Linked DNA regions of Homo sapiens: all the other regions are linked to region 2. The links come from fine-mapping of genetic effects on gene expression. A gene starts in region 2. Each other region holds a variant in brackets. All regions are shown on one strand. Distances are from middle to middle.

Region 1 (10,011 bases), 75 kb before region 2:
CACCCAGACTGTGCAGGGCACAAGCAGAGGGGCTGGCTGAGGCTGGCTGTGGGCTCTCCCTCCCATAGAAGAGGCCTGACCCCACCTGGCAAGGCCTCCCCGGAACTCCAACCAGGTTCAGAGGAGGAGGCAGAAGCCATGGGGCCATCCCAGCCACTGTCATATAAGGCAACAGGCTCCAGCCCTGGCGTGCACCAGCCAGGCCAGGCTAGGCCAGGCCAGCTTCTGCCTCCGCCCTGTCCCCCTCCACCCACCAAGGGCCTCCACAAGACCAGGACACTGGATTAGCACTCAGAGGAGTCGAAGGCACTGAGACATTCACAAATGACTTTTCCAAACCCGCAGCAGGGCCAGAAGTGGAATGCCAGCGCTCTGCTTCCTAGCCTCCGCAAGGGGCACCCAGGAAGGCAAAGGCACCAACCACGTGGGCTGCTGGGATGTCGGGCAGTGACATAGGCCAGCACAGCCCCTCTGGAGCCCCTTGTCTTCACTCCCTGGGAGGAGAACTGGGCCCTGCCAAGACTGAACTGCCCTAAAAGGCTGTCAGGCACCTGGCCAAAGGCATGAGCTGCCTTTTCCAGTCTCCAGGGCAGCTCAGGAAGCAACGGCAGTGGCCTGTTCCACCGTGGCAATGCTGCCTGACATGCTGCCTCAGGGCGTCCGCCTGGCTCGCACCCCGGGCCTCTTGTCCATCAGGCTGCCTGTCAGCCACCTGCTCGGCACTCCTTCCCTGGACTCTTCATTGCGCACTTGCCAGGTGGGAAGAACAAGGGGGTGGGCTTAGAAGCTGGTTGTCCCTCCCGGGGGTCTGCAAGCCCACAGCCACCAGACTGCCTGGTCATCCACAGACCAGTCTGAGCACACAGAGTGTGGACGGGAATAGACGGCGGGACACAGTCGGCCACAGACCCAGACGAGTGGACCACCACAGGGCAACATGAGGAACCCGTCTATATATAACCACGCACATTGACGTGGAGAGGCCCCACAAACCAGGTGTTGAGCCAAGGAAGCCAGACCCAAGGGAGAATGCTCTGCATGGTCCCATTTATATAAATGTTTAAAAACAGGCAAAATTGGGCTAGGCACAGTGGCTCACACCTGTAATCCCAGCACTTTGGGAAACTGAGGCAGGAGGCTCATTTGAGGTCAGGAGTTCGAGGCCATCCTGGGCAACATAGGGAGACCCCATCTCTCAAAAACCAACCAACCAACAAAACAGGTAAAATGAATCTATGTGATGGAAGCTGTGAAAGTGATTACCTCTGCAGGAGGGAACGCCTGGCAGGGGCCTGATGGGGCTTCTGGGGAGCGGCAGACATTCTGTCCCATGGTCAGGTGGTACATGGATGATCTCTTTTGCAAAGGGCACGAAGTGTCCACCTATGATATGGGTCCTTCCATTCACACGTATTATAAGTAAATTAAAAGGTACACATGAACAATCATACCAACTTCCATTCTCATCTCCCTCTTTGTATGATAAAAATCACAGAACCTCAGGCTTAGAAAACACCTTGAAGTCTGCTGGGCGCAGTGGCTCTCGCCTGTAACCCCAGCACTTTGGGAGGCTGAGGTGGGAGGATCACCTGAGGTCAGTTCGAGACCAGTCTGGCCAACATGGTGAAACCCCGTCTCTACTAAAAATACAAAAATTAGCCGGGTGTGGTGACAGGTACCTGTAATGCCTGCTACTTGGGAGGCTGAGGCAGGAGAATCACTTGAACCTGGGAGGCAGAGGTTGCAGTGAGCCGACATCACGCCACCGCCCTCCAGCCTGGGCGACAGATCAAGACTCTGTCTCAAAAAAAAAAAAAAAAAAGAAAAAAGAAAAAAGAAAACACCTTGAAGTCACCTAATCTAGCTTCTGCATAGTTATCCATTTTAATTCTCTTTGCCACACCCCCAATAAGTGTTCACTTCAGCAAAGGAAGTGCAGTATCTGCCAAGACAGCCCAAATTCATTTACCGGACTAACCAAAGGAAATCGTTCCCATATTTTGCCAAAACCTGCCCTTCTGGGACTTCCACTCAAAGCTTCTGGATCCTGTCCTCTGGGGCCTCCAGGAGGGAGCTCTCCGCCAACCTAGGTCCTCTACGCTTGGAAGAAGTTGCCACATTCCCGTGGCTGCCCCTTCCTGCAGGTGCCACAGCCCCCTCATTCCCATCTTTTTGTATCTTTTTTTGCCATTTTGGTTTGGGTCCTCTGACGGCCCTGGGGGTTGTCAATGTTCCCTTTCAAGTGCGACACTCGGAGTTGAGGCTGATGCTCATTTTCTTGGCAGCCCCACAACACAACGCAGTTAACAGATTGAGCCCAAAGTCTTTTTTTTTCACACGTCTTGCTGTCAAATCCCATTTCCCAGATCCTGTTCTTAATTGTGCAGCTGGGCCTCCCTTTTCAACTCAGTCCATCATTACAGTCTGTTGAGATCTTCTGGGATCTTCGGTCTGCTGTCAGTTGTATTCATGTCATCTGTGAATCTGACCATTGTTCCATTAATAGCCTCATCCAAAACACTGGGCCTGCCCTGGCCAACCTGTGAGTGGAGACAGAACTCGGGGTGGTGACAGGGCCTGCCCTCTGGGCACACTCTGATGGCCAGCAGCACCTTTTGATAATGAGCCCACTTCATTCTGTCATCATTTGACCCGCATTCCTTCATGCCGAACCCAGCCTATGGTGACAGCCTCTACCAAATGCCCAGGAAACCTACATACAGGCACTGCACAGTCCTCTCTGGAGTATGATTCTGGTTGACCTGTGGAAAAGTGAGGCTTGCCTGGTATGATTTCTTGTTAGGACTCCTAGAAAGCAGTGTTTCCTTTTCTACGTATGTGCTCCCAAGCCGGAATCCCCTAGAGAATAACCTGGAGGAGCACATCAAGCACCATTGCCCCCATCTCCTGGAAGCCCTCCGCCTCCAAAAGTCCCCATGGAGCCACGGCCCCAACTTCATGTCTCCCAGGAGCAGTGAGACGCCGTCCCACCGGGGAGACGGCCTCCTCTGCACAGTGAGGTTGGTCATGCAGCCTCCCACACTCTCTTAGGCTTTAACCCCCTTCGACGACCAATATTTGATTCCAAATGAAAAACTGTTCTCCTTGACAAAGACGGCAAAAGCAAAATACGAATTGTGTAGTGTTGTTCCGTCTGCATCAGGGCTAACGTTTTACTGTCAGCCCCAAACCGCACTCCTTGCTTCAAAAGTAACTACACAGAAACTCCTTTTATGGCCTTCGGCATTTCCCAACAACACTCCCGCTGGTCCACGCCGTTTGTCCGGCTACCTTACTTTGGTGCCCTTCTTTCCAAACCTGAGACCACGAACAAGCTCTGAGGGGAGCCCCTGCAGCCTTTAATGCTTCCCTTCTTTTCCTCACTGGGCTCCTTTGTAATCCATATTCAAAGCTTCAGTGCAAGATCTCCCAGCCCACCTGAGACATCTCTCTTCTTAATTTTTTTTTTTTTTTTTTTGAGACAGTCTTGCTCTGTCGCCCAGGCTGGAGTGCAGTGGCGTGATCTTGGCTCACTACAACAACCTCAGCCTCCTGAGTAGCTGGGACTACAGGTGCACACCACAATGCCCGGCTAATTTTTGTATTTTTAGTAGACCCGGGGTTTCACCATGTTGGCCAGGCTGGTCTTGAACTCTTGACCTCAAGTGATCCACCTGCCTCAGCCTCCCAAAGTGCTGGGATTACAGGTGTGAGCCACCGTGCCTGGCCCTAGAATCTTTTTTTTTAAGTTCTACCTCTTTATGCTTCTTTGAAATCTACCCTCCAGAAGCAGACAAAGCACGAGTGTGCTGAGTGAGTCCCCCTGCCATGCCAGGCTCTGTGGACTCAGGGAGTACGGCCACAGCACCTGTCCCTCTGATGCTCACGGCCCGCGTCAGTGAGGGGGACAGCCTGATGGGCCTGCAACAAGGGCTGCTCGAAGAGGAGATGCCTTGGCCGGAGCCTCGTCTTGAGGCTGAAGAGATGTGAACCAGGCAGAGGAGGACAATGGGAAGAGGCCTCTCCAGGAGGAGACAGATGCGGAAAAGCTTGGAGGCAAATGATCATCTTGAGTTGGGGTGGCTGCCAAGTTCTAGGACGCGGCAAAAGCGTGGAAGCCTGCAGGGAGCAGGGTGGCATGTGAGCCTGGGAAAGGGGGCACCAATGCCCTCCAACCCCAGGCTGCACCGTGGCATTTCACCCTGAGGGGGAAAGTCTGAAAGATTTTATGCACATCAGCAATGCGAACACATGAGCATCTGAAGGACGGTCACACTCCGGGACAGCACAAGGTGGAGCTGGTGGAGAAAGCCTGGAAAGAGACAGTGGGATGCTCTGGCGGAAATCCAAGGGGGTTGCAGGAAGAGCTGCACCAAGGCAGCGACAGGGAGGGTGAGGAGGAATGAGCACTGTGGGAGATTGGGGAGCTCCAGGGCACCGAATCTGTCCATAGGACTCCAGGCCTGGGCAGTGGGCAGACACTGGTGCCACTCATGGAGCCATGGAAGACAGGGAAGGGGTCCTCCTGGGAAGGCGGTGACTCCTGCTTCCCACATGCTGAATCCCAGACATGTGCCACACAGATAGGTGCTCAGCAGCAAAGTCTGGCCACAGGTATTCATTTGGGAGCTGCTAGCATGTGCCTGGAGCTGAGGCCTCGGGTGCAGATGAGATGGTGTCTCAGGCTGGCTTCCCCAGAAAGTAGGCTCTGAAATGGATATTAGCAAGCAGGGAATTTACGTAGGGAGAGAGGATGCAGGGAATTTATGCGGGGAGAGACAAAGGAAACCAGGCTGCCACGCAGCCAGTGAAGGCCTCAGCTGACCCCACAAGGACTCCGGAGCCAGCAGGGTCCTTCGGAGACATCCTCAACTAAGGCAACGGGGAAGATCTTTGTGTCTCAGCACTGGGCTGCTGCCAAGGAAGGGGCCCAGCCCTGGTAAGGTGACCACCTTTGGCAGAGGTGACTCCTCTGCCACCCCCAGCAGTGGAAAGAGTGCCCCAGTCCTGGATCGGGGCAAGTGGGGGGCACCTAGCACCCCCGACTTCATGGGCCTGTGTCACAGTAAGGGCTAGGGTGGAATCCTGAGGCCCACCAAGACTCGAGGGCTGGTGGGGGAGGGGTATCCCTGAGGGCAGCTGAGGAAGCCAGGAGGGCCCTGGGAAGCCCAGGGAAGGAAGTGCTGGTTGCTCATCAGGAAGAGCCCGAGAGGTCCCTGGTGACGGAGCAGCTTGGCTGGAGTGCCTGGTGCC[C/A]CAAGAGGTGTCTCCTCAGCTCCTGGCCCTTTAGGTCCTTCAGACATCCCACCTGAGAGGGAGCCGCGTCCTCTCCAGCCATGTCCCCCTCCTGGCGATCATGGCCTGACCGCCGCCCACCTTCACGCTGCTGTCTGCCTCCCAGCTCCAGCCCAGGCTCCGGATGCGACCTTCATCTTGCCTCTTGTTCCTTCCTCCAGGTTTGGTGCCCTTCTGAAATCTCCAGGTTGACTGGGCCTTGACTGCCTCCTTCCAGACCTTCTGGCCTCACCCGCCCACAGTGAGAGCTCTCTGTGACACTCTGAGCTCCGAAGAATCCAACCTGCCCGAGGGTGGGCAGGATTCAGCCATGAGTGAAAGAGAACTGGGGGAGGAAGCTTGGAGCTGCGGCAGGAGCTCGAGGGAGATGTGGGTGGAGACAGAACGGCTGTTTTAAGGTAGGAGACGCAGGAACGCATTTATTTGCTGCAGAGAAAGCTAGTGAACAAAAAGCAAACGGTACAAGAATAAGGGATGACTGCAGAAGGTTTTGGGAGAGGCAGGACTGCCAGGATCCAGAATTAAGGGTGCAGTGGGCAGCAGGGAGGTGAGAACTGAGAGCACTGCGTTTGTCTAGTGGGGGTGGCTGTTCGCTGGGAGTGCAGAGGCTTCAGCAGCAGGAAGCATGGAGTCTGCTAAGGTCCCCAGGAGGCTGGCCAGGAACTCGCTGTGGCTCCGGGCAGCCTGAAGGGGTCAAGAGCCAAGGTGGGGACAAGGGACATGCATGTGGCATCACTGTTTGGCCGTGCAGTTTCAAGTCTGAGAACAGGCAGGCAGGGAGTCCACAGTGGAGAAGGGGTCCAGGAGCTGACCCAGGGCCGGGCAGTGGTAAGGGGAGAAGGAAAGGTGGGGCCCTCTGGCCCCACAGTGAGGAAGTGAACAAAATGGGAGGGAAACGAGGGTTTCGAGGGAAGCCACGGTGCATCTGCGCCTGTCCCAGCTCTTATCCCCAGTGCGCAAGGACCTGACGAGCGTGAGGCTGCTCTCTCCCTAGCCTGTCTGCACTTCCGCTCCATCAGTCAGTTCCTCCTTGGTGGCCACACAGAACCTGCTTGGCTGGCTGCTCCAGACATAAGAACACTGAGAGGATCCTGGGGTGCTCCAGAATTCACAGGAAGATGGAGAACCTGGCCAAGGGGTGTGGAGCAGCAGGGTCCCTGGCCAGAAAAGCCTGTGAGGACTGCCGTCCCTGAGTCCTTTCCTCAGGAGCATCCAAGTGGTTAGGCCTGGGTCTCGCTCCCAGAGGTGGAACAAAGGAGTGCCTGACTCCCGGCTTCTGTGCAGAGGAGGGTGCGAGGAAGACGCCTCCTCAACACAGGAAGGAAGCCCACACCCCCCGCAAACCTCAATGTATTTCCATCACAGGAAGAGATCAGAAGAGAGCCAAACATTGTTGGCTTTTACTTATTTGCCAAATATTTACTCAGCACCCGTGATATTCTAGTCCACGCTCTGTTCTGGGTGCTGAGGATGCAGACATGGGGGAGATGGACGGGGCCCTCCCGCCCAGGGAGCTCATACTCATGGGGAGGGCTGGTCATAGTTCACTTCTGGTCCTGGTAGTCCGTGGAGAAAAATGAAGGAAAGGGAGGTTGTGCAGAGCCCTGAGGTGGCAGCTCATTTGGAAAAAAGGATCAGGTGAAACCTCTCTGAGGCAGTGACATGTGAGCAGAGACCACCATGATGAGAAGGGGGGAGTCTCCTACCAACGTGCGGGCATGAGGGAGGGTGGGCATCAAGACACAAGTGCCCAGTGCACCGCAGGGACAGGGAGAAGAAGAGCAGAGGGCAGGGCCACACCGCAAAGGGGCCTTAGCGGCCACCTTAAAGACTCCAGGCTTCCTTCCAAGATGATGCAAAGTCTTGGAAGATTCTGGAGCAGGGAAGTGACTCAATTGCTTATGACAGTTCTTTTATGGTTCAGTGTTTTAGGTGTCATCATAATGTTGTAATTATGTTTTAAAATACCCACCAAGGGCTGGGCACTGTGGCTCATGCCTGTGATCTCAGCACTTTGGGAAGCCAAGGTGGGAGGATCACTTGAGCCCAGGGGTCTAAGACCAGGCTGGGGAACACAGGGAGATCCTGTCTCTACAAAAACTTAAAGAAGTTAGCTAGGTGGGATGGTGCATGCCTGTAGTCCCAGCTACTCGGGAGGCTGAGGCAGGAGGATCACTTAAGCCCAGGAGGTCGAAGCTGCAGTGAGCCTGGATGGCACCACTGCACTCCTGCCTCGGCGAAAGAGATTCTGTCAACAACAAACAAACCACCAAGACCTTATCTTTTTAGAGACACGTACTGAATAAAATAAGTCTAATCATTTGCTCTGATTCACAATGATGTGGGGCAGGGGTGGGGGGCAATGGGTGAGGGAAGGAGGAGTCTCCACGGCTGTGTTTGCTGAGATGGAAAATGGGTACATGGAGTCCATTTTACTAGCCTCTCAACGTTTGTATATGTCTTGAAATTATCTATAACCAAATTTTTTTTTTTTTTTGAGACGAAGTCTCACTCTGCCTCCTAGGTTGGAGTGCAATGGCACAATCTCGGCTCACTGCAACCTCTGCCTCCCGGGTTCAAATGATTCTCCTGTCTCAGCCTCCTGAATAGCTGGGATTACAGGTGCATGCCACCATGCCCAGCTAATTTTTTTTTTTTTCTATTTTTAGTAGAGACGGGGTTTCACCATGTTGGCCAGGCTGGTCTTGAACTCCTGACCTCAAGTTATCCACCCACCTCGGCCTCCCAAAGTGCTGGGATTACAGGTGTGAGCCACCGCACCCAGCCAACAAAACTTTAAAAACTTATTAAATAGAAGTGATTCTGGCTAATTGGTGAGAACTGGCTGTGGGGGTAAGAGCAGGAGCTTGGAGGCCGACAGGGTCTTTAGAAAGGGGAAATAAGAGGATGGGCACGGTGGCTCACGCCTATAATCCCAGCACTTTGGGAGGGCGAGGCGGGCAGATCACAAGGTCAGGAGTTCAAGACCAGCCTGCCCAACATGGAGAAACCTCGTCTCTACTAAAAATACAAAAATTAGCTGGGTGTGGTGGCACGCACCTGTAGTCCCAGCCACTTGGGAGGCTGAGGCAGGAGAATCGCTTAAACACGGGAGGCGGAGGTTGCAGTGAGCTGAGACTGTGCCATTGCACTCCAGCCTGGGCGACAGAGTGGGAAAAAAAAAAAAAGAAAAAGAAAAAAAGAAAGGGGGAAATAAGCCCTAGGCAACCAAAAACACTCCTATTAACCTCACACCCAAAGATGGCCTTTCTTTTCCCCTAAACAGAATTGGCATCACACTTTACATATGGCTTCAAAGCCTTTTTTCCACTCAGCGTATTTCATTAACTTTCCCATTTTCCTGTGACATCATTTTTAGGTACCATATAATACTCCGTAGCACGGGCAGAACTGAATCGATGGTGGGGCACTGAGGCAATTTCCAGTTCTTCACTATCATGACATTGCTATGCCAAACATCCTTGTCAATGAATCTTTGCCATCTAGTTCCCCAGAAAACGATCTAGCTTTTTGAAGGGTGTGCACATTTTAAAGTCATTTGCTTGATTTTGCCAAACTGGCCTCCAGAGGGACTACTGACCGCATCTCATGAGCAGGGAAGCATATGCCTGTTTCCTCACATCCTGCCAACACTGGGCAGCACTGTCCTTTCGGATTGATTCTGGTCTGCCAGGCAAGGAACTCTACGTCATTGTCAGGGCTGGTTTCGTGAGCCGTTTTACGCAGGCTTTGTCCATTCCTCCATCTGACCAGGCAGCCTGCGGGAGCTGGCTTCATCTGACCTTCTGCTTTGAAGCAGCGCACACAGGATGTTTAATGAATAGCCGCAGGCAGTGAAGGAAGAGGATCCCCAGAGCCTGGGACATCAGCTTTCAGTAGAGTGCAAGCAGTTGCAGGAGCCCTGAACAGAAGTGGGGATGGCATGCTGCTCTTCCCAAAGCTGCCTGAGCTGCCCCAATGGCGCCACCTCCCAAGGTGGATGTTCCTCCAAGAACCTCCTCTTCCCCTTGGCTCTGTTTCAGGTGGTCTGCCTTAGTATTCACTTTCATTTTTCATGGTTAGGCCCAGCTCTTCCTTACATTTGCAGTGCATCCCATGAAGTCTTGAACGCTGAGGCAGGGGCTGCGGGTGTACTGCATGAGTGTCAGCAGGAGTTCTCGCTTTGTGCTTAACCAGTCAGTCGAGCAGACAAAGAGTGTGACAGCCCTTCGTACACCAATCTGCCCTTCTTCCTGGGGTCAGTCTGGGCACAGAGCCCAGTGGGGCAGCCACCAGTGAAGGCAGCCAGTAAGCTCTGTGGCCGCCGCGGGAAGCACAGTGGAGCAGCAGCTCACTGAAGACCCACAGTGAGTACAACGCGGCAGGAAAAAAGAATTAGGAGCCCTTTACAACCCAATCAGGGATGACGGCCAGAACACACCCTGAAGAGCAAAGAAGGTGCGGAAACGGCGGGTACGTGCACACGCAGACAGAGGCTGGCGGCCAGCCAGGTGGCTCTGGCTCAGGGGAAGAAGCGCATTTTCAACATCAAATTTGAAAGGAGTACTTTCAAAAAGGTACTCCTTGGTACCTTACGAATTTTGTTTTATTTGAATGCTTTTATCTATTTAGAAAAATAAAATCAATAACACTGATCCCGATAAGGCACCCTCCTTCCTAGTAAAGCTCTTGGCACAAAGCATCACCCTGCTGACGTGG
Region 2 (10,011 bases):
CCTGGGCTCAAGCAATCCTCCTGCCTTGGCTTCCCAAAGTGCTGGGATTACAGGCGTGAGCCACTGCACCCAGTCTAATTTATTTTATTTTAGAGATATAGTCTCTCTCTGTCACATAGACTGGAGTGTACTGTCATCATCATAGCTTCCTGCCACCTTCAGCTCTTGAGCCGAAGCAATCCGCCTGCCTCAGCCTCCCGAGTAGCTAGGACTGCAGGCACACACCACCATGCCTGGCTAATTTTAAAATATTTTTGTAGAGACAGGGTTCTTGCTACCTTGACCAGGTCAGCCTTGAACTCCTGGGATCAAACAATCCTCCTGCCTCAGCCTCCCAAAGTGCTGGGATTCCATGAGCCACCATGCCTGGCTCTAAATGCACAAATCTTAAGTGTTCAGCATGATTGATTTTTATGTACATATGTGTACATTTAGTATAAATGTGTGTCTGTGTGTGCATATATATACACATATACATACATATGGTAACCATTACCAGATCAACATATTGAATATTTCTTACATTCTAGAAGTACCTCCTCCAGTCAATAACCCCAAAGGTTATACTACTCTGCCTCTATCACCACCGATTATTTTGCCTGTTCTTGAACTTCACATACATAAAATCATATATATATATTTTTGAGACATAGTCTCGCTCTGCTGCCCAGACTCGGATGGTGTGATAACAGCTCACTGCAGCCTCAACCTCCTGGGATCAAACAATCCTCCTGCTTCAGCCTTCTGAGTAGCTAGGACTACAGGTATGTGCCACCATGCCCAGCTAATTTTTATATTTTTCTGTAGAAACAGTTTCATTGTGTTGCCCAGGCTGGTCTCAAACTCCTAGGCTCAGGTGATCTGGTCACCTCAGCTAACAAAGCGCTGGGATTACAGGCGTGAGCCACTGCATCCAGCCAAATCATCAATTTTGTGCACTTCTGCATATATTTTATTCAACATTATGCATGTGAAAATCATCCACGAACTACTGCTAAATGTATGTTGTTGCATGCTATATGCCTGTAGCAGTAGTTCATGCAGCAGTTCAGTAATCTTTATTACTATACAATATTTCATCATATGAATAACTACTACTTATTTATCCATTCCGCTGTTGATGAGCATTTGAGTTATTTCTTGTTTCAAGGTATTATGAATAAATCTGCTATGAATTTTTTTTTCCAAGACAGTTTCGCTTATTGCCCAGGCTGGAGTGTAATGGCACAATCTCGGTTCACTGCAACCTCCGCCTCCCGGGTTCAAGCGATTCTCCTGCCTCAGCCTCCTGAGAAGCTGAGATTACAGGTAGGTGCCACCACACCCAGCTAATTTTTAGTAGTGATGGGGTTTCACCATGTTGGCCAGGCTGGTCTCGATCTCCTGACCTTGTGATCTGCCGCTTCAGCCTCCCAAAGTGCTGGGATTACGGGTGTGAGCCACTGTGCCCTGCCAAAGTGGTACATAAAAACTTTCACTCCGCCACCAGGAAGACAATTTGCCCAACCTGTTCAATACAGTTCCCGCTCAACAAACCCCAATTTAGCATCTTCTATGTGTCAGGCAGTATGCTGAGCATTGGGACCTCAAGGATGAGGAAGATGCAGTCTCTGCCCTAGAGGAGCTTACAGCAGCAGGAAGTTTCTGTCATAGGACAGACCCAGGGCTCACCAAGACTCAAGCAGATGATGAAGCCTGGGGCTCACTGGCCCAATCAGCGTATTCAGACTGGCTGGCTGCTTATGAGGCTCTTGGGCCAGGGCTGCCTGCTCAGTGGGCAGCTGACTCTAGCTGCTGCAAAATGCCTTTCACTCAAAGGTGCTATCTACCAGTGATTATATGGCATTCCAATTTTACCTGGAAGGGAGATGCAGCTACCAGCTGTTTCTTCCCTCTCCCAACCACAAAGTAACACATTTTTCATTTGTCTATCTGTTGTTTCCAGGTTTTTGCTTTTGCCAATCCCCTCCCTCACATGCCTTGAAACAAGCACTTTCAAAGACAAAGACATAAACAACAAAAGGGTGCAGGCTGAGGTGGGTCATCTTCTCTGCCTGCGTCTCCAACTCTGGATCCTGCAGTTACTGGACTCAGGCCATGGCTGACTCCTTCATCACAGCTAAGATGCTGCTGGGTTTAAGGCACTGTGACTTTCTGTGCCACTAAGACCGACAAAAAGCTGCCAAGTGAACGATGACACAAAGAAAGACACAAACTGTGGGACCCAGCCCAACTTCAGAGCTGCTAAAATGTGAACAAAAATGCATCCCGGAATGGATGGAAACCGATCATTCTAGTTGGTGTGACCTGCTCCAGTGCCTACAGTACGTGTCCTGACAGCGTGGGAGGGGATATGAAGGCCCCCCAGTCAAACAGGAGACAGCGTTAGTCTCCAAACTTAACTTTGTTATCTCTTTCCCTCCTGGGGCCCAATACCCGCCAGCCAGGACCTGTTTCTCCTCCATCTCACATTCTTTCCAGGTTCAGGACTGAAGTCGTCTTGTTCAGCTCCTTGACTTGGCCATGCTCACTCTACAATGCAGCCCATGGATGGCGCCCCCTCTGCCCAGCACATCCCTCTGCCTGGGCTCTTGTCTCCCCGAATCCTGCAAACCCCAGCCCCAGCCTTTAGCGTTCAGCCGCCCTCCCCGCTTCCCTCATCCTCCCTCGCGTCCTCGCAGTGAGATTTCAACATGTCATCTCAGTTTTTTTGTTCTTTTACTTTCCTGACTACAAGAAAAATAAAATAATCTGTCTTAAAGTGTAGCATGAGGCCAAATAATTACGGAATCCCAAGTGCTTTGGGCCCTGATGTCAAAAGAGCCAAGATGAATTCAGAATATTACAATGGTGCTGTTTCTGCGAATACTGCTTTTTCAAGACGCCTTATTCCTAACATCATGTTTTATATCCATCCTTTTAAACAAATATTTAATAGCTTGGGAATGCTGGCGAGAGCAGCGGCTCCTGTCAGCAAGGACTGAGCTCACAATTTGAAAGATGAAAGGAGATGCGTTCTACCCACAAAGAAAACGGTCTCCAGCATCATAAACTCCACATCCATCAAACCGGGCAGGGGCTGGGAATAGAAAGCCTTTCTGGAAAGAAAACACCAGCTACCCTTTGCACCCTGGGGAACATTAAAAATCAAAACAAAACATGCCACATCAACCAAAACATAAACCAGTTCTCAAACCAATCTAAGGTTCCACCCCACCAAGGCCGGCCGCGCAGTGGCCTGTGGAGAGGAGGGCCCGGCTCACGTCGGAACCCGAACCACGCGGGGTCGCAGGAACCTGAAAAGCGCCAGAGTAGCCCGGCGGCCGCACCGGGGCTGACCTGCAAGGCCTGGACCAGCCAGGAGTCCCAGGGAAGTCGAGTGCTCTCTGAGCGCTAACCACGCGCCCCTGCGGTTCCTCGGCCTCAGTTTCCTTACCTGTAAAATGGAGCCGCTGATCCTGCCTCCTGAGTTGTGGAGCGAGGCCCGCACCTGGAAGCCTTGGCCACATAGGGCGGGAAGGGCAGGGCTCCGGGGTGAGGGAGGGTGGCGGGAATTCGCACGGCCTCAGAGGACGGGGCCAGCTAGCCGGGAAAGGAAGCAGGAGCAGGCTCCCCAGGCGGCGCAGTGGGAGGACCCCAAGAGTTGCGTCCCTAGATCCAGGGCCGCCAACGTGGAACCTAAAGATCCAGTTCTGGGGATTGAGTTCCGACTCCAAACCAAGCGGCCAGCTCACAGCCGCCGCCGCCGCCAGCTGGGGAGCTCGCCGGCCAAGTGCGCACCCTCTTCCTGTTAGCCCTCCACGTGCGCGCCCTCTTCCTGCTCGCCCTCCACGTGCGCATCCACGTGCGCGGGAATTGGCTGGCGGAAGCTCCTGCCCCCAGGCAGTCCTGGGTCACGCGCACTTGTAGTAGCTTGCATTTACCAAGACAGTGAGACAGTGGCCTGGCGCGGTGTCTCATGCCTATAATCCCAGCACTTTGGGAGGCTGAGACGGGACGATTGCTTGAGCCCAGGAGTGAGAGACCTGCCTGGGCGACATGGCGAAACCCCGTCTCTACTAAAAATACAAAAATTAGCCTGGCGTGGGCAGGGCGCGGTGGCTCACGCCTGTAATCCCAGCACTTTGGGAGGCCGAGGCGGGCGAATTGCCTGAGGTCAGGAGTTCCAGACCAGTCTGGCCAACATGGTGAAGCCCTGTCTCTACTAAAAATTAAAAAACATTAACCGGGCTTGGTGGCTGGCGTGCGCCTGTAATCCCAGTTGCGCGGGAGGCTGAGGCAGGGGAATTGCTTGAACCAGGGAGGTGGAGGTTGCAATGAGCCGAGATCGCGCCACCGCACTCCAGCCTGGGCAGCAGAGCAAGACGCCGTCTCAAAAAAAAAAAAAAAAAAAAAAAAAAAAAAAAAAAAAAAAAAAAAAAAAAGCCGGGCATAGTGGTGCAGTGCCTGTAGCCCCAACTACTTCAGAGGCTGAGGTGAGAGGATCACTTGAGCCTGGGAGGCGTAGGCAGAGGTTGCAGTGAGCCGAGATCGTGGCACTGTACTCCAGCCTGGCGAAAGAGCAAGCCCCCATCTCTAACACACACACACACACACACACACGTGTGAGATAGCTGTGTCTGTTTGGCAGTGATGAGCTTCCCTTTATGGGAGATTTACATAATTATTCATAAAGGAGCGGGAATGGGCATTACTGTTAAGCATGTTACGGGGTCTCCCAGATGTGCATGTGCGTGCTAGTACACCACATCACATGTCTCATTAGCATTTTAATTCCTCACCCAGGGGTGTGTTTTTTAGCATTAAAATGAGCATAGGTCATTCCAAGGACACTCTAATCATGGGTTTCTGCACTTGTGTGAATTTGGGGATTTTCCCTTCTGCTGTTCATCCTCTTCGCTGCAGGATGTTCTAACTAGGAGCCTGATGCAGTTTATGCACCAGTGGGCGGTTTGTTCTCTACATCAATCTGGCAAGTTCATTCCCCTTTAAAGGAGGCTATGACCACTGTATCTAACCGACCTCATTTTCCCCCTCAGAGACTTTGGGTCCATGTTCTTATGAAATGTGGAGGGCTGGGTCATTTTTTCTGGAGCTGCTTCGTGCTGAGACAGGACCAGGGCCCGAAAGTCTCTTCTTGCCTGATTTAAAGTGATAGGGGTCATATCCTCCACTGGGATAAGTTGAAATCCTTGCATAACTATCAATCTAGGAATTGTTGTAACCTAGAAGACACAGACTTTAAAGGAGCTTAAACAAGCAAGGACCAAAGGTCAGTAGTAATAAGATGGCTATTGTAGGTCCCATGAAAGGTAGCAGAATGAAGCATCACATCATTATTCAGCAAGCAGAAGAACAAAAAGAGCTCCTACAAATAGGAGACCTGAGATGGGACTACCTTATGTTAAAGTAATATTAATCTCTTTATTTGGGGTGTTGGCATCTTTTCTTGAAAATGAATGTTAGGTCTTCTATAGGCTTACAAAAGGATTTTTAATTTTTAGTTGTTGATGTAGAGTCCTGTGGAAACGTAAGGGAAACAGTTTTTATCCTAGAGAGATGCACCCAGCTGGCAATGTCCTGGATTCTCTGGACTATGGTGTGTTATGGTGGTCAGCTGGGCTTTTGAGAGTGCTCCTATGAGAAGGGGTTCAGTTGGTTTCATTGGTTTTAAAGAAGCCCCCAACGAGGGTAGCAACAAGGGAGTTAGGCATTCACGTCCTTGAGTCTGCAAATTAAAGGTTGGGTGGCTGGGCACGGTGGCTCACGCCTGTAATCCCAGCACTTTGGGAGGCCGAGGCAGGCGGATCACGAGGTCAGGAGATCAAGACCATCCTGGCCAACATGATGAAACCCCGTCTCTACTAAAAATACAAAAAATTAGCCGGGCGTGGTGGTGGGCGCCTGTAGTCCCAGCTACTCAGGAGGCTGAGGCAGGAGAATGGCATGAACCCAGGAGGCGGAGCTTGCAGTGAGCCGAGATGGTGCCACTGCACTCCAGCCTGGGCAACAGAGTGAGATTCCATCTCAAAAAAAAAAAAAAAAAAAGGTAAAAAGGTTGGGTAAAGTATCTGGTCCGGGTTTTTCATCAATTCCCGTGGCAGTGCAGTGTTTGGCCTATTTGGCCTACTAGGGTCGACGGCAGAATGTAAGGACTGACAGGCTGGTCCCTGTATGTAATAGAAAATTAGCTACACCTGCCACGTGCAGGGTCACTGGATTCCTCTGTGGTAATGGGGACTGAATGACAGCCAGTGTTAGCCTTGGGTCTCCTCAGTCTTTAGTCAGGGCCATCAAGGAATTGGAAGCCCCTGTCTCCCTACGGAGTTGGGGGCAGTCCTGCTTCCGGTGACTGGCATCTCTGCATTGTGGATATGGTCTAGGTGGAGCGGACTTTTGGGCATTTTGTCCCTTGGTCTGGCAGTTTTGGGGCCAGTGTCCTGGTTTTAAGTGTAGCAGGTGTCCCCAGATTGGGGCTTGGTCTGGACTGGCTTGTTCTCTCTGATAGCAAGGGCCAATAATCGGAGGCCTGGTTTATGTCTCTTGCCTCTTCCCTCTTTCACTTTTTAGCCTCTTCTACTCTGTCTCATTATAGAAGACTTCAAAGGCTACATTAATTAGCTCATTCATTGGTGCCTGGGGACTTACAGCCAGTTTTTGTAACTTTCTCTTAATATCTGGAGCAGATTGACTAATAAAATGAGTCCCCAGAAGAATTTGACCTGCCTCAGAGACAGCATCTACATTGGTATATTTTTCTAATGCCTTTACAAGGCACCCCTGTGAAGACTCAAAAGGACCATATAATATTTCAAAGGTGCTGGGTTGCAGATTGGTCTTGGGAGCCGCTCTTACTTGGAGGAACGCTAGAGGCAATCACTTTAATAAGGACTCAGAAGTCTCTTGCCAGAGCTTCGCCAGAGTTTTCTTTACAAGTAGCTTTTTCTAGCTTTCCTGAGGATGGAGGTCTCCAGGAAGCATGTAAATGATCACTTACTCCTAGAGTGGTAGCACTTGCTGGGTTATTTTGGAAACAAAGGAGGGGCCATTGTCGCTTTGGAGTGACATAGGTAGCCCAAATCGGGGAATGATTTCTTTTAAGAGGCACTTGTGCCTTTTCTGTTTTGGTGGAGTAGGCTTCAATCTATCCCATGAAAGTATCTGTAGAGATCAGTAAGTGCTTAAATCTTTATACTGGTGGAACTTAGGGAAAGTCTAACTGTCTGTCTTCCCCTGGGTACCTTCCTCTCCTCTGTACTGGCATCAGTAATGGAAGTGGCCTTATTTTCCTTTCTGGGTTATTGATAGAGTAAAGTGGTCTCGCTGTAGTGTGTGCTTTTACAGTAGTAGCTAAGCCTGTTCCCTTAAGGGTTCATGTGACCAAAGCGTTAGAGAGCCCCTTCCTAGGTGTCTGTAACCCCCTTTGATTAATTTGCATTGATGACCTTGAGGTATTAAAATTTTTGAATTTTGGGGCCGGGCACGGTGGCTCACGCCTGTAATCCCAGCACTTTGGGAGGCTGAGGTGGGCAGATCACGAGGTCACGAGATCGAGACCATCCTGGCTAACACGGTGAAACCCTGTCTCTACTAAAAATACAAAAAAATTAGCCAGGCGTGGTGGCGGGCGCCTGTAGTCCCAGCTACTTGGGAGTCTGAGGCAGGAGAATGGCGTGAACCCGGGAGGCGGAGCTTAAAGTGAGCCGAGATCGTGCCACTGCATTCCAGCTTGGGCGACAGAGCAAGACTCCATCTCAAAAAAAAAAATTTGAATTTTGGGTCCACCATCATTAGGGTCTTGGTATTATCCCTGTTCAGTTGCCCACTCCCTTTCAGTTTGTGTGTGTGCAGGCACTAGCTCAGGAGCCATAGTTTCTGGGATGGGAGCCCCTGCTACAAATGGAAGGGACACAGCCTGTTGAGCAGTTGCATTTGCTAAATTATCATTTTTTTTTTTTATTGTTGTAGAGTTCCCTCTTTGGTGTCCCCTGCAGTGCATAACATCAACTGGTAACTGCTTAGTCTTTGGGCTAAGTCTGACATTGAGAAAAGAATGTGAACTCGAATGGTCCCTGCCTCTTTGTTAGTTAATTCCCTACGAGGGAGTAGCCTGTTTTCTGGTTTGAGTGGGTGTCCTAGCGCGACTGGGCCCTTCTGGGAGTGCTGGGTGAATGGGTTGATATGGAGGAGGTGCAGTAGAAGACTGCAAGTCTGGTGAGGAAGGACCACTAGAAGGAGTAGAGGCTCTAGAGGTTTGAGGAATGATCCTTGGACTAGATTTGAAGAAGGAGAGCTGTTAGTGGGAGGCATACTTCCTAATACAGTGTCATGAATTACATCAGATTCCCTTGAACCCTTCTGAACAACATGGGCATAACACATTTGTCACTGGTCTCTAAGACACTTGTGGGTTTTAATTTTTTTTTTTAATAGAGATAAGGCCTCACTATGTTGCCCAGGCTGGTCTCCTGAGCTCAAGACAGCCTCCCACCTTGGCCTCCCAAAGTCCCAAAGTGATTACAGGCATGAGCCACTGCGTCTGGCAGAGACTTGTCTTAATGTAAAACCGTTTGGTTAGAGGGAGGAATAATGTCAGGTTGCCCTGGGCCCTTGGGGAATTTCTGACCTTCCTTTCCTTTTATAAAAAGGTTTAATTATAAAATGGTATTGTTGGGCCAGGCACGGTGGCTCACACCGGTAATCCCAGCACTTTGGGAGGCCGAGGTGGGCGGATCACGAGGTCAGGAGATCGAGATCATCCTGGCTAACACAGTGAAACCCCGTCTCTACTAAAAATACAAAAAATGAGCCGGGTGTGGTGGTGGGCACCTGTAGTCCCGCTACTTGGGAGGCTGAGGCAGGAGAATGGCGTGAACACGGGAAGTGGAGCTTGCAGTGAGCGGAGATCGCGCCACTGCACTCTAGCCTGGGCGACAGAGCGAGACTCCGTCTCAAATAAATAAATAAATAAATAAAATGGTATTGTTTGGGGCCATGCTGTATTACAAAAGAAGAGAAGTCTCTTTTTTTTCTAGTCCATTCAGTTTAAAATAAGACCAATTTTGGAGAATGCATCTGAGGGGGCAGTGAGCAGAGGGTTGGTTACTGTATTGTTCCGCTCTCATACCGCTATAAAAACTACCTGAGACTGGGTAATTTATAAAGAAAAGAGGTTTAATTGACTCACAGTTCTACAGGCTGTACAGGAGGCATGGCTGGGGAGGCCTCAAGAACTTACAGTCATGGCAGAAGGTGAAGGGGAAGCAAGTACATTTTCACATGGTGATAGGAGAGAGAGAAAGAGAGTGAAGGGGGAAGTGCCACACACTTTTAAACCATCAGATCTCGTGAAAACTCACTATCATAAGAATAGCAAGGAGGAAATAGCCCCCATGATCCAATCACCTCCCACCAGGTCCCTCCCTGAACATTGGGAATTGCAATTCAACATGAGATTTGGGTGGGGACACAGACCCAAACCATATCAGTTACCCATCTTGATTAGTAGCCTAATGTCAAAAAAAAAAAAAAATGAAGAAGGCTCTAAGCCTGAAGAGACAAAATTTAGCTTGGGCGTCCCCTTACTTTCGCTTGGGCTTCCCAGGCCCTGCTGTCCCTGGTGTCAAGCGTACCTTGATGGCCAGCTGACAGTCTTCCCAAAAGTGGTTTTACCAGTTTTCCCACAAGGAGAGGTACCACTTCTAGTCCCTGTCTTTACAGTTATTGGTGAGTGACCAATGTGGAATGAGGCAGATAAACTTCTTTTCCTCATTTAGCTGAGGGAGTCTTTTCCTGGGCTTAGACTCTTCTGGCCTTTTCTGTACATCTGATGTTCTCTTATTAAAGGCCCAGGACTTGGGTGGGCAGCCCTAGAGCTGACATTTCTATGGTACCATGATCTCTCTACATCCCATTTTCCTCTCTTAAAGAGCAACTGTATGAAGGGAAAATGAAGCAGGGGAAAAAAGAGCAACTTAAGGATCTGGAAAACAGCCAAGCCTACTAGGGTTG
Region 3 (10,011 bases), 940 kb before region 2:
CAATGAGCACAAGAAAAGGTGCTGAGAATCACCCAGAATAAGGGAAATGCAGATGAAAACTACAGTGAGATAGCACTTCATACCCACTAGAATAGCTACTGTCAAGAAAACCCGAAAATACCGAGTGTTGGTGAGGAGTGAGACATTAGACCCTTGTGCACTACCGGTGGGTATGTAAAATGGTGCCGCCACTGTGGACAACAACATGGCCATTCCTAAAAAAAAATTCAAATAGAATTACCGTATGACCAAGAATTTCCACTTCTGGACGTATTCCCAAAAGGATTGAAAGCAGGATGTTAAAGAGATATTGTATATCCAAGTTCATAGCAGCAGCATTCATAGGAACCAAAAAGTGGAAGCAAGTGTCCATTGATAGACGAATGCATGAACAAAATGTGGTCTATACATGCAATAAAATATGATTCAGCCTTAGAAAGGGAGAGAATCCTGTGATAGGCTACATCGTGGATGAACCTTGAGGGCATTATGCTAAGTGGAATAGCCAGTCACAAAAAGACAGTATTCCACTTACATGTGATACCTAGAATAATCAAATTCATAGAAACAGAAAATAGAATGATTGCCAAGGGCTGGGGCAAAAACGGAATGGGAAGTTAGTATCTAATTGGACACAGTGTTTCAGTTTCACAAAAGTAGAGTTCTTGAGATGGATGGTGGTAATGGTTGCACAACAATGTGAAAGTATTTGATACCACTAAAGTGTACAATTAACAGTGGTTAAGATGGGAAATTTTATGTTCTGTGTGCTTTACTACAATTTGAACCAGATACAACCTTATACATACATGGTAGGCAAAATTCTCAGCTGAACTCCAATAGGCAAGCACTTCTGTAATCCTCTCCTGGTAAATGTGCTTCTAATTAATAGATTCTAACAAAGGTGATGATGTGCCATATGGAAAAGGGGAAAAGAATTTGCCAATGTAATTAAAGTCCCTGATCAGTTGACTTTATGTTAATGAAAAAGGACATCATCCAGGGTGCATCTAATCAGGTGAGCCCTTTAAAAAAGGATGTAAAGGTATGAGACTATCTCTCCTGCTGACATTGAAGAAGCAAGTCTCCTTGAGTTCTACAACCACTCGGAGATGAATACTGCCAGCCACCTGAGGCAGCCTGGAATCAGATCTTTCTCCAGTGGAGCCTCTGATGAGAATGCAGCCTGGCCAACACCGGGTTACAGTCTGAGCAGAGCACCCAGCTAAGCCGAGCCCAGAATCCTGGCCCACAGAAAATGGGAGATGAAAAATAAATGGTGTTTTAAGCCACACAATTTGTGTTAACTTGTTCTGCAGCTGTAGAAAACTAATGCAATCTTTTAGGCAAAACTAATCTAGGAAGAGACAAGTATTGGAGCTGGGCACAGTGGCAGATGCCTGTCATCCCAGCTACTCAGGAGGCTGAGGTGAGAGGATCCCATGAGCCCAGGAGTTTGGGGCTGCAGTGAGCTATGATCGCACCTGTAAGTAGCCAGGGCAACAAGTGAGACCCTGCCTCAAAAAGAAAAAAAAAAAGAAGTCTTCATGTTGGGTGGGGAAGTGGGGAAGTTGATGAGGGCACTGCTTGTGGAGTATAGACCAGAGCCACCATTGTGGAGGGATTTTGATCAATAGTATGCATCCCTTACACCCCTGCTATTCCATTTCTAGGTAGAGATGTAAAAGAAATTGACACAGATTCGTCAAACATGCACACCAAGATGTTCACTGCAGAGTTCTTTGTGGTAGTGTGGGGATGGGGGCTGCGGGAGGCACCCTAGGGTTTCTATCCTGGGGAGAATGGAGAGACAAAATGGGAATGGTCCACACCATGGAGAATTATGCAGCCACAAGGAGAGATGAAAGGCACACATAGCCACATGGATGGGCCTGAACACAGGGCTGAGTTTAAAAAGGAAGAAGCAACATGGGAACCCAAACATTACCATTTGCAGACATTAAAAAACACATAAAGACTGTATCTCTTTTGAAAGAGCATTTTTAAAGCAGCACAGGAGGTGGGGGAATCTATGGGGAGCATGTTGCCCATGCAGGGGAAGGGAATGGGAGTGAGTGTGGAGATAAAAGAATAAATAAAACAAAAGTGGTTTTATTGGACCAACAATAATTCACTGAGTAGTTCAGCGCAACTTGAGGGTAAAATTAACGGCACCTGGATCTGGGGCAGCTGCAGAGGCAGCGACGTCCAGGCCTTTGTGCAGGGGGGCTAAGGTCACCCGTGCAGGTGGGGAAACAGTAAATGCCAATGAAGCAGGTGTGTGTGGTATAGAGCAAGCAAGAAAGGAGAGATTACTTTGGCCTAAGAGGGATATCTGCATTTATATTACTAATGAGTTTCCACTGTAAGCCACAGAAAGCCCGGCTCAAAGCGATTTTTTTTTTCTTTGCAAACAGAATTTATTGACTCAAGTGACTAAAATGTCCAGGCTGACTCCCTTGGGTGGGAAAGATGGTTGCCAGCAGGGCCAGGCGTATTCTCTCCAGCTAGGAAACCAGAATTGTGGACCTCCCTTTCTCAGAGGTTTCCACAAAAGCCCCAAGGCTGGTCCCCTTTGGTCAGAAAGAGTGACACGCCTGAACAAATCCCCAGGGCCAGGCCCGGGTCACATCGCCACCTGCAGACAGCAAGGGCTTCCAGCAGAGGCATGGCATGAGCACAAGCTCGTGGAGGGACGTCTTTGGGAACGAAGCTGGAAAAGCAGGAGGTGAGGTTCCATGGCTGCCAGCTCAGGCGTGACCTTCGCTGCCACTTACTCAACTTGGAGGCTGTTGGTGGATGGAGGAGAGCCCTGGAGCATTTCCTCCCAGAAAGGAAATGCCTCCAGAAGTGCCTCCCTCCAGGTCCTTCTCACTGCCAAAAAGTCCCTTTCCCAGAGAGGAAGGAGGCTCAAGGGCTCAGAGCGTTCTCAACACAAATGACTGTGGGGAGAGCCCTCGTGGGGGTCTGGGTCATTGCAAGAGGGAGCTCATGTGGATGCAAATCTATATAATCGGTTGCCAAAAAAGTACTGAGCCGGCCTGTTTTCATCCTGTACCAGGCGGCCTGCAGAGGACAGAATGTCCACGCTGTCTCTACAGAAATCCTTTCCGGCCAAGCCCCAGGGCCTGGGGGTTCTCCAGCACTTAACCACCAGCTTTCCTGCCCTGCCCGCACAGGAGCAGCCAGTGGGTGGCTGCCATTATTGTCTCCAGGGGCACTGGGGGCGATGCTGGGCTGGGTAGGGCTGTGTGGGGCTGAGGGCAGTGTGGGTTCTGAGGGTCAGGAAATGACCTTCCTTTATGCACTACCACAACACCTCCCACAAACCACTCCTCCTGCTGCCTGGGGTTTTGAACACAGTCCTGGCCTCTTTATGGCAGTGGCAGGCAGTGTGGTTTTGGAATGGCCAGCCTGCCACAGGAGGCAGAGCTCCCACTGTGCCAGGAGGCAGAGCTCCCACTGTGCCGGCAAACAATAAGCACTGTTGTTTTTCCCCAGAGTGGGGCTGCCCGGTACTGGTCTGTGCCTGTCTCTCTGGAGCAGGAAATCGAGCAGAGGGAAATGTGTGGATTGGTTAGAGTGCTGTCAGCTGCAAGGAACAGAAAACCCAACTCAAAGGGGCTTAAACAATCAAGATGTGTCTCCTGTGCCAAGCAGTGCAGAGGTAGGACAGCTCAGGGCTGGTTAGATCAGGGCCGCAGGAAGCCAACAGGGACCCAGGTTTATTCCACATTCCATGCTGCCCTCCTCTTCAGTGGGCCAGTCTGTTTTCAGGCCAGCTTCCCTCATAATCACAAGACAGCTGCCACAGTTCCAGGCATCACCTCCAGATATGACAACACCCAGCAAAAGAGACTCTCTTCTCCTGGATCCATCTTTTAAAGAGTAAGGGAACTTTTCCCAGAATTTCACCCAGCAGCTCTTCCATCATGTCTCACTGGCCAGAATTGCATCACAGACCTATCCTTAGCCAGTATTTGACAGAGGAAACAGGAAAGCCATGACTGGCTTGAAGGGCATGGACTACCCCAATAGCACAGGGTTTGGATGCTCCTGCAGATGCTCCAACAGCCTTCACCACACCAGGAGACAGAAGTTCTTCCCAGTTGGAGATCAGCTTTATTCACCATTGAGGATGTGATGTTTGGAGCTGTAGGGGCCATCTTGCAGCAATGGGGGGAAATTCAAGAACATCTCAGACTTGCTAACGCCATGCTTTGCCTTTACTGGGCCGTGAGACAATCCTGGGACCACATAGGTTTGTTACGTGAGTAAAATGAACTCCTGTTCAATGAGGCCTCCATTAGTTGAGTTTTCTTTACTTGCAGCCCAACTGACACAGAGTTCAGTTGTTCTGGGCAGTGGAGGGACAGGAAAGGCTCCAATGGCGGCCATTCTCCTTTGGGTTCCCATCCTCTGTGATGAGAAATCCTCGTAAAAATCACCCACCAGGACACTGAGATGGCCAAGTTTCTGCTGACCTTCCAT[G/T]TGTCCTTGCAAACTTCAGAGGAAACTGGACCCTGGGCAAAATGATGAAATTAGAGAGTCCCTGAGCCCTTCTTCTCGCCAGAAAACTCCACCCATGACCCAAATTCCCAGAGGACATAGGAAATTATCAGTTATAATTGCAAATAATAAAGACTTAGAAACCTGACAAGAGGGTCTTAAGCAAACACGATTTGGGGTTTTTCTATTCCTTGAGTAATGAGAAGCCCAAAGGTCAGGATCCATGATGGTCCCACTGCTGGGGCTGTGGTGAGGCTATAGGGGACCAGGGTCCTTCCAGCTCCCTGTGTTGACATCCTCACCAGGTGCCTTCATCCTCAGGGTCACAAATACCTGCTGCTACACCTTCAGGCAGAACTTTGTGCCCCAGGGAGGAATATAGGGAAGGGGAAAGGTACAGTGAAGAGCCACCAGGCCCAACAGGAAAGCAGTAGCTGTCCTGGAAGCCCCACTCTGAAGATGCCTGTCATGGGCTGTACTGTGTTGTGTAACCACCTTTGGCTTTGAGGGAGAGGAAGGGGAGAATGGCTGTGGACTAGGTAGCTAGCTGCGTCGGCCACCAGGTGTGGAGTCCGGAAACCTGGGACTCAACCCAACACTGCTTCCTGCTGCCTTCAGTAACCCCAGGCAGCCCAGGTCATTGCTGCAGCCTCAGCAGCCTCTCCTGCCTGGCAGAAAGTGGGGGAAGAGAACTGCCTCCATGAGGGTTCCTGAAGGCCGGGTGCTCACTTGGCCTTCTCCCCATCTGGGGCAATGGGTCCTAGGGCAAGCATGGGAATGGGAAGTGTGGCTTATTCAAGGCTCTTCTGATGTCAAGTGATAGAAATTGATTCAACTCATCTATAGGGAAAAAGGGCGGGTGATAATTAATTTATTTCAGACCCAATGGGCAAGAGGAGCAGTCAGACCTCAGGAAGGACCTGACCTCAAGCTAGCAAGCCCTTGGAGACAGAGGCAGCCACTCCTTCTGGCTCCCCGGCCCCAGGGTTGCCTGCCTCTGCTGTTCTCCCCTCACCCACTATACCTTCTTTCCCTCTGGATGGAAAGGGGTTTCTCAGCCTCACAGCTTCTGCATTCCCGTGAACAATGGGCTGCCAGCCTCTCTGAATTCGTATTTCACATTCCTAGGAGAGACTGTCTGATGATCCAGCTCACCCTGATGTCTGTCTCTTGGCCAGTCAATCCAGCCATCGAGTTAGAGCAGTTCCCAGAAAAGAGGGGCTGGATGAGGCTGACCAGCACACTGCAAAATTGACTTCAGGGGAGGAAGAGAAGCAGAGGCAGGAGGGTCCTCTTGGAGATCTGGGGGAAAGAGAGACAGGGCATTCCTTTAGGACTTGTGCCTCAAAGACCAGTGGGAAGAGACAGCTGGGTGAGGACAGGCTTCAGGTACTCTCATGTGTCCAGATCAAATATGGCTTTAACCCCTCTCTAAGTCATCGCAAATCTTTATTTTGCAAAGAGCAGAAAATCCCATTCAAATGGCTTGGCTGAAAAAGGGAATGTGTGGACCCACCTAACTGAAAAGTCAGAGCCAGGAGGGACTCAGGCATGGTTCGATCCAGAGGTTCAACATTTACTTGCAATATTTTCTCTGCAAGTTTCATTTTGTTTCTGTTTCCAGTTCTCTACAAGTCATTCATCTCTATTTCTTTGTGAGACAGTTTCATTTGAGGCTGGCTTTCCCCCTGTGGCACAAGTGGCTGCTTTATGTCAGCATTTCAGTGAAGTCCTTAGATGGGCTCTGAGTGGCCCAGCTTTTGTCACATGCCCCCTCCTGAACAAATCAACTTCTGTTGGGAGGGAAGGTAGTTTGCCGATTGGCTTGGTCAAGTCACAGTCTCCCTTCTTCTCACCCCCTTCAAGAAGGAAATCGGCTTCTTTGGGCTCACACCATCCCCCAGCAGATCTCTGGACTATAATCAAGAACAGGGAGAAAATGAAGCAAGTGTTCCCACACCAGTCATTTCCAAGAGCTGGCCAGTTAGCACAGAACAAGAAAACACACGCACGGGGCACTGGCATGTGGGCAGCTGAAGAAGGGCCCTGAAGATGTACAAGTCCTAATTTCTGGAGCCCATGAATATGTTAGGTTACATGGCAAGGAGAAGTTAAGGGCCCAAATGGGATTACGGTCACTAATCAGCTGACCTCGATGTCAGGAGATTATCCTGAATTATTCAGGTGGGATGTGCAAGAGGGAGGTAGGCGAGTCCGCGTGAGGGTGCGCAGTGTGAGAAAGCCTCACAACAATTGCTGGCTTTGGAAATGGAAGGGGGCTGTGAGCCAGGGCATGTGGGCAGCTCAGAGAAGCACAGAAAGAGATTCTTCTCCACAGTCTCCAGAAAGGAACGCAGCCCCGATGACGCCTTTGCTGTAGCCCAGTGACACCCAGGTCAGAGTCTGACCTCCAGAACTGCAAAATAATAGATGTGTGTTGTTCTGAGCCACTGAGCTGGTGGTAATTTGTTACAGCAGCAGTGAGAAACAAAAACACGGCATTCCAAGAGCAGGACTCCGCATGGCAGGAGTGACAGAGTGGTGCCCAGTGCAACGGTGTGTGACAGAAATACAACATGCACTGCAATGGGGATCTTAAGTTTTCTAGTGGCCACATTAAGAAAGAAAAAGAGGCCGGGTGTGGTGGCTCATGCCTGTAATACCAGCAGTTTGAGAGGCTGAGGTGGGTGGATGGCTTGAGGTTGGGAGTTCGAGACCAGCCTGGCCAACATGGTGAAACCCTGTCTCCACTAAAAATACAAAAATTAGCCAGGAGTTATGGTGGGTGCCTGTAATCCCAGCTGCTCAGGAGGCGAGGCAGGAGAACACTTGAATCTGGGAGGCAGAGTTTGCAGTGAGCCAAGATCGCACCACTGCACGCCAGCCTAGGCAACAGAGCGAGACTCCATGTAAAAAAAAAAAAAAGAAAGAAAGAAAAAAAACAGGTAAAATTAATTTCAATAACATATTTTAACCCAATATATTCAAAATACTATCATTGCAATGTGTCATCAATATACAAAATATTGAGAAGGTGTTTCCCATTCTTTTTAATCCCCAGTTTTAGAATTCAGTGTATATTTTACACACAGCACATCTCAACATTTCTGAGCTCCTTTTCAGTGCTCATCAGGCACACATGGTTAGTGGCTGCTGCCCTGGACAGCACAGGCCTAGTGACTGTACTTTTGGTTGTAAGGGTGGCAGTGGCTGGCATGAACCAGAACAGGGGTTTGTTTGTGACAATGACAAGGAGACCGCTAACCCCTGCTGATCTGTGTGTCCAGTTTTATTTCTCTTTTTTCTAATTTTTTTATTTCCATACATACCCTGCTTGTATATCAAGCTCTTTTCTAATCAGGGATCCTCAAATGACAGGAGTTGACCTCTGATTGTGTTTGTGCATTTCAAAGCCCAGAGCTGTGACCTCAGCCACGGTGGGCAGGATGGGTGCTGGAGAAGGGCATTAAGGCTCCCAGCTTTGTGGGGGAAATGGCATCTTCTTGAGTGAGTGGGGAAGTGCAAATAGAATATGCACAAGCTAGGAAGGACATTTTTAAAGCCTGTGCTTCGAACATTCTTCCTCTAAAGGATCAGGTGAGCTGGCTCAGAGCAGGGAGCCAACCGCCGAGCCAGGGTGAGAGGGCTTTGTATTTGGAGAGTGAAAAGAATACGGTTGTTTAGGCTTTGGACTCAGAGCATCAGAAACTCAGGAGAAATGAGATCAGCTGAAAAAGAAATGGGTTTGATGTTGTAGACCAAACATGAACAGTGGGGAACAGGCTGAAAAACGAGGGGGGAACAGTCAGCAGCTTCCACGGCTTCTCCCAAATGGAGGGAAGTGGGGCCAGCTCAGGGGACAGGCTGGAGGCTTATGACGGAAAGATGGTGGGGTCCAGGTGTGGCAGGACAGGAGGCAAAGCTGGGGGCTGCTATGGGACAGAGGGGGCAGAGGGAAAGTTGTGCTGCTAATGGGGTCACAAGAGTCACTTATGGCCTGGGGCCTTCAAGAACCAAGGGAAGCCCTCCCAGAGCCCAGCACCACCACAAGCAATGCTCACGGCTCCAGCCAGCAAGACTTGGGGTAGCAGCCCCCAGCCTCTCTCCCCATATTGGGGACAAAAGAGAACTGGAGAAGCCAGAGAGAGGGAGCTGGCCAAGCATTTCCGGAGGGCACAGCCCAGGCCTCCACCATCCTCTCCCCATGTGTGCTCAACCCTTAAACACTTTGCTAAGCATTACAGGTCAGGCCCCTCCCCTGTGTGTTCAACCCTTTAACACTTTGCTAAGCATTACAGGAGTTCTTCTGCTAGAAGTGGCCAATCAAATGTCCCTGGGCTTGGCTCTTGGTCCATGGCAACATTCCTTGCTTTTGGAGAGGGTGTGGGGTCCAGGAGCTAAGTGTACCCTTCAGCCAAGTCATATATCCTCTCACTCAACCTCACAATAATCATTCCAGGTGGTATCATTCTTACCCATTTTACAAAGGTGAGGTTGACCCTGTGTAATAGTCAGGGTAGGCTTGGTTACGCTGCTGTAACACACAGCTCTAAACATCTCATAACTTAACACAGTAGTTTACCTCTCACTCCCACTCATGGGGGCTGGCGAGGGAATCTGCTCCATGCAGGTCGCTCAGGGATTCAGGCTGATTGAGGCTCTGCTGTCTGGAACAGTGGCCTCTGCCAACTCCCTGGCAGGGGAAGACACAGATGGAGGTGCGTACTGGCTTCTTTAGAATTTGGCATGATCCTGCCTAACTAGAAAGGTGCTGAGTAGTCTGAGGAACATCTGGGCTGTCTGAGGATCCCCTAGTCCCCTAGATTGGGAAGTGGGAGCGAGGCTTAACTGAAGCGTGTCTAATGTCAAAGTCCTTGCTGTCAGCCCCGCCTTATGCAGCTTCCCCCCTAAACCACTGTGAAAACGTGTGAGCTCTGTGGTAATGTGCCAATTCCAGGGGTGTCAACACCATGACCCCCAGATATTCTCATACACTGCCTCCTTAGCCCATCCCAGGCAAAGAGGGCTCTGCAAACCAGGGACCCTGCGAGGCCAGGGGACAGTGGGATTATACTGCCCCATCCCCTCTGGCCTGCCTCCCGCCCTTCCAGCCTGCTCACTGTGTCCCTGCTGAGTCCCATGACTCTCAGCTGCCCTCAGGATCCTGCCTCCGAAGAGTCCTTTCCTTCCTGTGGAATCTGGAGCCTGGTCCTCCTTCTCCAAGGCAGCACCTGCCAGGTTCCTCACTGGCAGCAAGCAGCCTTGCTAACAGCCTTGCTAATCCGTTAATTACCTGCTTCTAGCAGAAGAGCTGTTAATTGAAAACTCCACCCCCTCCTTTAATTGCCTGCCTGCCTCTGGCTGTCTAGGCTTCCCTGGGTTCCCTCCAGGCCCGCAGCCCTTGGTTCTCTGCCTTTGGGCTCCTGACTTCTTCCTGGTCAATAAGGGTGTCTGTGGCTGTCTCTGCAGTGCTCATTACTGGGGTTGCCAGGTGAGAATCCG

Alleles and levels. Alleles are on the strand shown, and positions count from the first base shown. SD is a standard deviation of normalised expression in the study named. Not every link is listed here.
With allele A in place of C in region 1, the expression in cerebral cortex of the gene that starts at base 3,776 in region 2 is lower (moderate effect, 0.41 SD a copy in GTEx).

The links. PIP is the estimated chance that this variant, and not a neighbour inherited with it, causes the effect.
Region 1: its variant is the best candidate, but not a certain one, in a credible set for the expression of FAM178B in cerebral cortex (GTEx, PIP 0.83).
Region 3: its variant is the best candidate, but not a certain one, in a credible set for the expression of FAM178B in sigmoid colon (GTEx, PIP 0.71).

What each region holds. Positions count from the first base shown.
Region 1 is chr2:96,907,339-96,917,349 of GRCh38, forward strand. All of the region lies in intron 12 of FAM178B (family with sequence similarity 178 member B), which reads right to left. Among named protein-coding and RNA genes, the nearest start is that of SEMA4C, 42 kb to the left of the region's middle. RefSeq lists an enhancer at 5,898-6,585. The variant C/A (reference allele first, on the strand shown) is at 5,254.
Region 2 is chr2:96,982,805-96,992,815 of GRCh38, forward strand. FAM178B (family with sequence similarity 178 member B) reads right to left here and starts at 3,776. Exons shown (of 17, transcript NM_001122646.3): 1 at 3,437-3,776. The coding sequence starts at 3,509. RefSeq lists enhancers at 2,813-3,333, 3,334-3,854.
Region 3 is chr2:96,046,593-96,056,603 of GRCh38, forward strand. LOC105373494 (a long non-coding RNA gene) reads right to left here. Exons shown (of 4, transcript XR_923085.3): 2 at 6,026-6,425; 3 at 5,534-5,811; 4 at 2,855-4,523. Among named protein-coding and RNA genes, the nearest start is that of GPAT2, 17 kb to the left of the region's middle. The variant G/T (reference allele first, on the strand shown) is at 4,492.